Linked DNA regions of Homo sapiens. The protein of the gene in region 1 purifies or fractionates together with the protein of each later gene. This does not show direct contact. Each region holds a gene or a part of one and is shown on either strand. Other genes may lie near its edges.

Region 1 (4,425 bases):
AAGCTTAATTACATCAAGCAATTCATCTGTACAACTCCACAACTCCCTTCTCAAGATCAGATTCCATACAGCTTACAGAGCCAAGTTAAGTAAGAAGTAGGTTGAGATTTTCATCCCAATTCTGCATTCAACAACTCTGCTTCAACACCTAGTCCACATGAGGAATGTGTTGGAGAGTTGAATTACATTCAACAACTGGTCCAAATTCAACCTCAAGTGCAGATTATTCTGTTATAAAAAAATGAGACAGTGAAAATCCTTCCATTGTCCAGCTTATAATAGAGTCCTTTTAGCTAAGAGGACTGGCTGACAGAATTTGGTTTTGCAGGGAATTTCTTTAGGAGGAGCTATTGGGGAAGGTCAGGAATGGCCCTATCTTTAGTTCTCCAAGAATGACCTGGGATGGGTAGGGGGTGCCTCCATTTCGGTTGGTTTTGAGTGTCTATTTTTCACATTAGTCTTTTTGATGATCCACATGTTGCAAAAGGAAAATGTAAAAAACACACCCCTCAAATTGCTTTGTTTCAGAATGCTTTTGCACCTTTGACTGATGCCAAGACTAGGAGCCATGCTGATGATGTGGGTCTCGTTCTTTCTTCATTGCAGGCTAGTATATACCGAGGGGGATACAACCGTTTTGCTCCATACTAAATGACAAAACCATAAAAACCTTCCAATGTGGGGAGAAAGGAAGCTTTCCGAGGCCTGAGTATTGCAATACATGCAGTAGTACATCATTTTAGCAACTCTAAAAAAAAAAAAAATACAAATAAAAAGGAAAAAAAATTACATTTTTTATCTTATACCTCAGATATTTTGTTCTGTGTATTTTAATATTGTGGGTCTTTAATTTCTGAAGGTTCCGTAGTTTGGTTGCTGGCTGTAGGAGTTTTTGTGGTTGATCTAGACAGATGCTAGATAATGAATAAAAACTGGTTTAGGGCCATATCCAGAGTGCTATATTATGTAAATGAATTATATATGCTGAATATTAAGCTACTGGGGTTATCAGCTATTTGGGAAGAGTGTAAGTGACTACAGTAGTCATTTTTTTCTGCACCTGCATTATTTTATTTTGCGAAAGGGGAGGTTGGGAGGGGCTTAGGGGATTGGAACTGGGGTTTGGCTGAAAGAAAAAAAAAAAAATGTAACTGATGAATCTAAACGACCCACTGCACCAACAATCATTTATCAATGGTTCTAAGTTACTCATTGCCAGTTCAAGCCAAAGGTCATGTTGTTAAGGGGGTGCTTCTAGTAGCACTTGTGCATCTGAGTTGAATGAAGCTGTGCAAACCCACCCTTTAAACCATTCCACCCGGCAGTATTCAGCTTCTTAACCAGTCGCTATTTAGGAAAAAAAACCCACTAGTTAGGCCATCAACAAGCATTCTTTTTATATTTCTTCCAGTATAATAAATTATTGATATCACTGCTGACTTTTATATTATGGGAGGGAAAAAATAACATTAATAAAAAGGTGATAAAAAAGCACTGTTTCTATTTTTTTCTTTTTTTCCAAAAAAAGAAAGTAATAAAAACTTAAATTCTTTGTACCAGTTAAAAAAAATGTATAAAATTTACATCTGTGCAGTGGAGTTGTTAAGTTCTAGAAACAGTCTATGAAGCTTTAGTTTTAGCCTAGTAGAACAACTGTTAGAGACAGACGTATAATTTTTATGGAATTACATGATAATCATATTCGGATTTATAGAAGCATTTTACAAGTATTGCAATCATTGAGTAGAGATAATCATGGTATTTTCATCAGCTTGGTACTTTTTGAAACGTGACTGCGTTGTGTGAACAATCTGCAATTTTTCAGTCCGTGAGATCCTGCCCTTCCACCTCTTTCCCATACCCCCAAGGATTATCTCAAAATGATCTCTTTAGTTCTGTCTCCAAGGCCCAGGACACTTGTCAGAAGGATGCAAAAAAAGAAAAAAGTACATCCACCCTCTTAATCCCAAAAGAACAAAGTCTCCCCACCTTTCTCGGATGCAGGGCCAGAGTGACACAGCCGAAAAATTGCAGTTTGTCTGTACTTCTGTTTGAACTTTCCACGTTGTCCTGTTTACAAGTTAACTTAAGTTGGGGTATCCGTCACGGGTCTTCCTGTTTTGTATTTAAATAAAAACAACAGCAGCAGGCTGTCCCTGAGTAGTTTTGCTGCCATAGGTTAAGTCCTCATGTGTACAGTGCAGGCCCTGTGGCCCGCACTTCAGTAAGTTATCAACTCTCACCGCTGTGAACCTGCCAATCCGCTGTAACAACTCTGCTTTAAAACAAAACCAAACAAAACTTTAAAAAAAAATGTGTGATCCAGCTTTCTCTTGCCATCCTATGTGCATGCCGTAAGATCAGTTGGATATTAAACCATCAATAAAGTTTCACAAGATTTGAAAACAAAGTTTCTGTAGCTTCGATACCTAAGACAGACGATAGTGATCTTGAAAAGAGAAAAGGGGGAGGGGGGAGCTACTTATCAGCCAAAAGCATATAAAGTGTTCTTTTCACCAGACTTCTTTGGGTGGGTGAGGGGAGGGGCAAGAGGGTGTTTTATAGCATCACTAAGACATTCTCATTCCCCCACCTGGAAAACAGTGTTATGGCAATGGGTGCCTGGTTGATGTTCTTAAAGGAAACGAATTATTAAAACACTATGACATCCTCCAGAGGGAAGAAAGAGTAGGAGCAGGGGGCTATGGAGAATAAATTTCTCCCAATTGCCGCCTCAGATTTCAAAATCCAGAATTTGTATTGTGTTTCGAATCACAAACATAGAATTCTTACTGTGTTGGTTAAAGTAAAATTCATTTGCAGTTTTGATTTTCATCAATGAGCTGTACTTTCCCCCATGACTGTATGTAGTTTTAATAAAATCATTTAGAGTGAGTGAGTGCCAACCGATGTTGCAGAATCTTTTGTCTAGGCACTCCAAGATGCCAATAAGTCATTTTAAAATGTATGTCAGAGATGTAAACAAACATTTTGGATTTTTTTTAAACAGTATTTATTTGGAATGTTTTCATTTATCTAAATAACTATTGCTATTATGAATTATGGAAAATTAATATTATGTGTGGCATATAGTGACTTCTTAACACACACATCACGCAATCTGCAAACCCAGAAAATGTGTATATCTGTCTTTAGAAATTAGTGTTTATATCACTTACAGTGGTTTGTGAATAAAGAAAACTGGTTTGTAATATCAAAAAAATAAAAGCTTAGTCTGAAAAGGTACAAGTTGGTGTTCTGAGTTATTTGGCTTCCATGGGTTTTCTCTCTCAGTGGGTAGATTTGTTATCCACAGCTGTGATTGCACTTGGGCCCGCCCGGGGATGTGGGGTGGGTGTTGCCCAAGTGAGCAGGAGGCTGCCCTGGCCACCAGTAGACCAGATGCCTCCTGCAAGTTCCCTGCTTTTCTGGATTAAAATCTTTCCCTTCCTCACTCATTTTCCCAAAGAAGTCAGTGGAACTCACCCTGGCTGTTTAAGAAACTGAACTAAGCTTAGCTATCTCCTAGCATGGAAGTATCAAGTCTTCAGTTTAAAACAAAATACATCACTCATCTTAAATATGTTTGAGCTATTAATTACTTTTTGGGACACCTCGGATAAGATGAAAAAAATATAGTAAGTGCTAGAGTTCACATACATTGAGTGCTCATTAGGAGCCAAAAATCGTGTGTTCCTTATTTAAAAATCAGGGTTGAACTGTCCACCCCATTTAGTTACTTAATATCTTAATCCTATCTCATTATATCTTAATATTCCTATTAAGTTGGTATCACTGAAAGATTTTTAACATGTGCGTTCTAGAAACATATTCTGAGTGTGCACCCTGATTCTGTCAACTTGCTGGTGGCAATCCAGGATGAATTAAACCAAAGTGCTGTGCCTCAGTTTCCCCAACTGCACCTCAGGATCATCTCACTGACCTAATATTGTTATGCAGAAGAAAGCAATCTCAATAAAGTGCTTGCAGCAGTACTTCATAAACTGTAAGCTATTATCCACAGGTGAAGCAACTGAGACACAAAGATTCATTTCTCCAAGGTCACAGAGCAAGCAGGTGATCACCCTAGGATTCCAGAACGTGCACCCTTAACTGACGAGGCATGTTCTCACCTGACCAATAAGAACTTTATACATGAGCAGTTTAACCCTGTGTGCCACCTGCAGACTCTTTGTTCTGCAATCATTTTTTTTTCCACACTGCAGGTTGTCTTCACAGCATCTATCTTATTTCAGTATATTTAATCATCCCTTCTCTGTAAACTCCTTATATATGAAGACCATGCCGGTTATAAATCAACTTGTATTGGCCTATGTCAACTGATCCTTAAAGATAGGGTTACCCTTATTTTATGAGGACAGGAAGGATCCGATAGGTCATATGATTTGCCCAAAGCTGTATCTA
Region 2 (4,821 bases), on another chromosome or scaffold:
TTACTCCTGGCTCAGATTGGAAAAAAGTCTCCTTACCATGGGCTGTTGGGGTTCAGGGGCTGCTTTCAGTGAGGCAAGATCATACACGAGGGGCTCTCTGCACACTGGACACTGCACACCGACTGCCTTCTAAAAAAGAGAAAAATCATATGCCTGTGTCACAGCCCAGGATGCCCCCTGGTGCTGACCCATCAGCCAACCTAATCTGCAGAGGGCTGGGACTAAAGGGCACAGGGACACCGGTTCAGCAGTGAGTTGGGACAGAGCACGGGTTGTCTAACTAGAGATCTGGGAACCCCCCGAAACTGCATGCAATATGTAAGTGTATATAAGGATGCCCTGGCCAGGCACGGTGGCTCGCGCCTGTAATCCCAGCACTTTGGGAGGCCGAGGCGGGCGGGATCACTTGAGGTCATGAGTTTGAGACCAGCCTGGCCAACATGGTGAAACCCCGTCTCTACTGAAAATACAAAAATCAGCTGGGCGTGGTGGCTCGCACCTATAATCCCAGCTACTCGGGAGGCTGAGGCAGAAGGATTGCTTGAACCCAGGAGGCGGAGGTTGCAGTGAGCCAAGATTGTGCTACTGCACTCCAGCCTGGGTGGCAGAGTGAGACTCCATCTCAAAAAAAAAAAAAAAGGATGCCCTTTATTCTGGACAGAGGTAAGAGTTCATTAATCTCAAGGGTATCTATGACCCTGAAAAAGTGAAGAGCCACTGGAGTGGAGAGATGGAAAAGTTTGTGAAAGGCTGTGCCTAAGGGTGTCAGATGAGTGTGCAGGTGCAGTGAGGTCTACCTGTTTGGTTGTAGCATGCTGCCGTTCCTGTTCCTGCTCCTGTCCTTGTGCCTTCAGCTCTTGCTCCATGTGCTGGATGTACCGAGCAAGGCAGTGGCAGTGGAAGTAGTGGTAACAGGGTGTTTTGGTAAAGGCCTCCTTCTCCTAGAGGGAAGGCAGATGTAGGGCACTAAGTCAGAGCTCTCTCACAGCCCTCATCTGCTGGTCCCAAACAGAATGCCAGGTCCCAAGAGAGAAACCCACCTGGAAACCATAGAGGCAGATGACACACTGGCCATGAGGGATGTTGTTATCTGTGAGAATTTCCTTCCCTTTCTGAGGAGAGAAGACACTGATTAAACGGGGGTAGGGGGAAGAACGGTGAGCAAGGCCTGTCTACTACTCCTAGGAGTGACTGGCTAGACTTGGCTCCTAGCAGGCCAGTTTGTTACCTTGTGTTTATGCATTTCTGGCTTGGTGACGCTCCCTCTGCTGGGAATCAATCCTTCTCCACATCTCTGCCCCTCCCCCAAAATTTGATCTTCCTGGTTTCAAAATTCAACCTAATTGTTTTTCCTTTCATTAAGTCACTTTTAATATATCTTGGAGATGAAAATAATACACCTTGAGAAAAAAAATGTTCAATTAAAATTTATCTTCTGGGAGGCCTTTCTTGATTAGCCCCCTTCAATATCACTCCCCCATGGGGCAATGTGTTTGTTCTAAGTCAGCTTTCAGAAAGCATGACAAGGCATGGACAACCCAAATGGACAGAGAATTCACAAGGCATTGAGTTGGGCTGTGAACTATGCATTTGAATTGTTATTTGAATAGCTAATAGTGTACTCTGGAATTCCACAAAGTCCAAGGCTGCATTGTGGAGGCCTGACCTAGGACTGCTACGGTGGCCTATCAAACCCACTCTCTTTGACTCTCAGCCACCCACCTTCATTCTATTCTGAACATTTTTCTTAAAAATTTAAACTAAGAGAGGCTGGGCGTGGTGGCTCATGCCTATAATCCCAGCACTTTGGGAGGCTGAGGCAGGTGGATAACCTGAGGTCAGGAGTTCAAGACCAGCCTGGCCAACATGGAGAAACCCCATCTCTACTAAAAATATAAAATTAGCTGGGTGTGGTGGCACATGCCTGTGATCCTAGCTATCTGGGAGGCTGAGGCAGGAGAATCACTTGAACCTGGGAGGCGGAGGTTGCAGTGAGCTGAGATCACACCACTGCACTCCAGCCTGGGTGACAGACTAAGACTGTCTCAAAAAAAAAAAAAAAATTAAAATTAATAAATAAACAAACTAGGGGAAAATAAAACTGTACTTAATTTTATATTTTTAATCTCAAACAATAAAAGTTTTCTGTGTATATTGGAGCTTCAGGTGTTGCTTCATGTGGGTTGTTTCATCAAGCAGTGTATAAGCTCTTTCAGTAAAGGAACCATGACTTTTTCTTTTTTTTTTTTTTGAGATGGAGTCTCACTCTGTTGCCCAGGCTGGAGTGCAGTGCATGATCTTGGCTCCCTGCAATCTCCGCCTCCCGGGTTCAAGCGATTCTCCTTCCTCAGCCTCCCAAGTAACTGGGATTACAAATGCCCGCCACCGTGCCTGGCCAACCATGACTTTTTCTAGTCAGGTCCAATGGCAGTCTAGCCTTCAAATGTTCATTTATGGCTAAGACGCCCCCAAGCAAGATGCGTATCTTTTGCCACTTTCAGTTGCCAGTGCCAAGAGAACAAGACATATACTGAAACTGATGCAAGAAAAATTCAAGGTGAAGAGGAAAAGTCATTTTCTGTCAAGATGCTGGCATAGGCAACTTGGAGAAGCTACTGAACTGTCTTTTGGGAAGTTTTTCAAATAGAAGAGTCTCATTTCTCTGGATTAATTTAGGCCTTACCTAATGACTCCAGATCCGTTTAAGATTCTAGGCCCATGGTTTCCCTTTTACAGCTAGAAACTGCTCTAGCTTGAAGGAAAGAACATATCTCAGACTAGCGCACCTCTTACCTCAATGAGTTCATACAGCATGGCAGTGCCCAGCCCAGCCTTGGCCACGTGGCCCAGCACCTGTAAGATCCTGGAGGAAGAGGGCAAACCAAATATTAGACCTGCCCATTTCTGTCACCGGGCAAAGCTGTAGCTGAGTTTTCCCTGTTCTGACAGGTTCAACTTACGTGTGGATCTGTTCATCTGAAAGTCCTCGGGGATTTCGGATAGAGATCTGTGGCACCTCATGGGGATACTAGTGGGGGCAAATAACAAGTTACTGCTGAAGCGGTCCACCCCAGGGACTCTCCCCTTCCTCCCTTTGCTGCCACACAGTAGGGGCTTCACCTCTGCTGGGACCTGAAGCACCAGAGTGAAGCAGACATACTGTGAATCCTGGTCCTCTGCAGTGGCAGGATGCAAAGTGATGTAGATCTCCCATGGTGAAGTTCTGCAGGTGGATCAAGTGGACACGCAGATGTGACTGGGTAGGGGCTTGGGGGCTGGGGAGGATGGGGCTGAGACAGTGAAGTGGGCAAAGGAAGTACACATTGGACTCTTTCTTTTGGGGTAGGATTAAAGGAATAGCTTTTGTCTACACAAGAGAAATATTATCTCTGAATCAAGGCTCACAATGTCTTAAGACCCAAATTCAGCATAGAACCTCTCCTCATTACTAGGGGGACTCCTGCCCACCACTGGTTGAATACATACCTGCCATTTCCTTTAATCACCTGTAGTTCATCTAGATAGATGGACTCCAATACTTCAACTTCAGAGGGAAGGACCCTAGAGAGACAGGAGTAGACTAACTTACCATTACAGCTCTCCCTGTGGAAGCCTGCTAAGGCCAATAAAGGCAGGCTTTGTAGAAAAATGGCAATCTACCAGAATGCATTCTCCTGCTAAACTCCTTAAAAACAAGGAATATGTTACCTTAAGTTGTCAACTGGCCAAATAGAAGGCATGGAAATCAGAATTTTAGGCATCATTTCTGCCAACAGATGAAGAAGTGGATTCTAGAGAAGTAAAATGACTAACCAAGGCTTAACATAGGTAGAACTAGGCCCAGAGCCAGGTTTCCTGACTCCCTGTTTAAGTTTCATTCCCCTTAGTGGCTGAATCTCTGGTCTAGAGATATGGCACTCATTCATTAGCATTAACGTTACCAATATTACTCCAACCTTTCCCTACGTCACTGTCCAGTGTGGATCCCAGTGCCTTGGCTACTGTCTACATACAGTTTTAACACCAGTCACCCTAAGCCTTCTTAAAGGAGATAGCAACCTCAACACAACATATTTAGGGTGGTATAAAGGCTGTGTTGTAATGGAAGAGCCAGCAGCCTCGGAGTTAGTTAACAGGTACCAATCACTTACAAGCTATGCAATCTGGGACGTGACCTCTCTGTAAGCTTAAGTTATCCTGTCTGTCACATATAGATAATAACACCTACTCTCTAGGGTTATTGTGAGGATAAAAGGTGATTTGTTTACATAAAGTACCTAATAGTATCTGGGCTATCGTAGCTAGTCTACGTCCTCTTTTTTTCCTGTCTGTATATAACCTTCTCCCTTAGAAGGAAAGAGGGAAGGAAGGAGGTAATAGAGTACTCTGGATGTATTTATGACCTGGCTGTCTGGTTGATCTAGATCAGCCTGTTGAGGTTAGGATCCATGGTTCTGATGTAAATCAAGGGACACACATACTTAAGCATAGAAACAGCAGTTGTAATGAAATTGAAGCTGAGTGATCAGTTTGTGTCTACAGCTCTACCAAGTGATACATGGAAAAATGCACACTTTGCTTTCTCACACTGCTCCCTCTTCATTCTAAGAGTAAGGCTGCCCCAGCACGACCTATGTCAGTGTTGTTAAGTCTTAGGCAGAAACTTCAAAATATAAAATATAAAGCTTCACACCTCACAGATAACAGTGTAGTTCTGGCTGACATGGGAGTGGGAGTCTCACAGTACTACAGGCTGCTGCACTCATTGTTGCTGTCTCCATGGCTCAAGGTGTCTCCCCTGAATCTTAAAAGTTCCCCTGA

The links. The genes of interacting proteins can lie anywhere in the genome.
Region 2: the proteins of RBFOX1 (region 1) and RNF25 purify together in Homo sapiens (affinity purification with mass spectrometry; 2 studies listed by BioGRID and IntAct, with this or other methods). This does not show direct contact.

Annotation. Positions count from the first base shown.
Region 1 is NC_000016.10:7,710,095-7,714,519, forward strand, and holds the end of RBFOX1 (RNA binding protein fox-1 homolog 1), read left to right. Parts: exon of another isoform or gene 1-528; coding exon 529-651; 3' UTR 652-3,246; downstream 3,247-4,425. UniProt on the Homo sapiens protein: RNA-binding protein that regulates alternative splicing events by binding to 5'-UGCAUGU-3' elements. Regulates alternative splicing of tissue-specific exons and of differentially spliced exons during erythropoiesis.
Region 2 is NC_000002.12:218,665,119-218,669,939, forward strand, and holds part of RNF25 (E3 ubiquitin-protein ligase RNF25), read right to left. Parts: intron 3,562-4,821; coding exon 3,487-3,561; intron 3,224-3,486; coding exon 3,121-3,223; intron 3,029-3,120; coding exon 2,961-3,028; intron 2,864-2,960; coding exon 2,794-2,863; intron 1,113-2,793; coding exon 1,041-1,112; intron 942-1,040; coding exon 798-941; intron 130-797; coding exon 37-129; intron 1-36. UniProt on the Homo sapiens protein: E3 ubiquitin-protein ligase that plays a key role in the RNF14-RNF25 translation quality control pathway, a pathway that takes place when a ribosome has stalled during translation, and which promotes ubiquitination and degradation of translation factors on stalled ribosomes.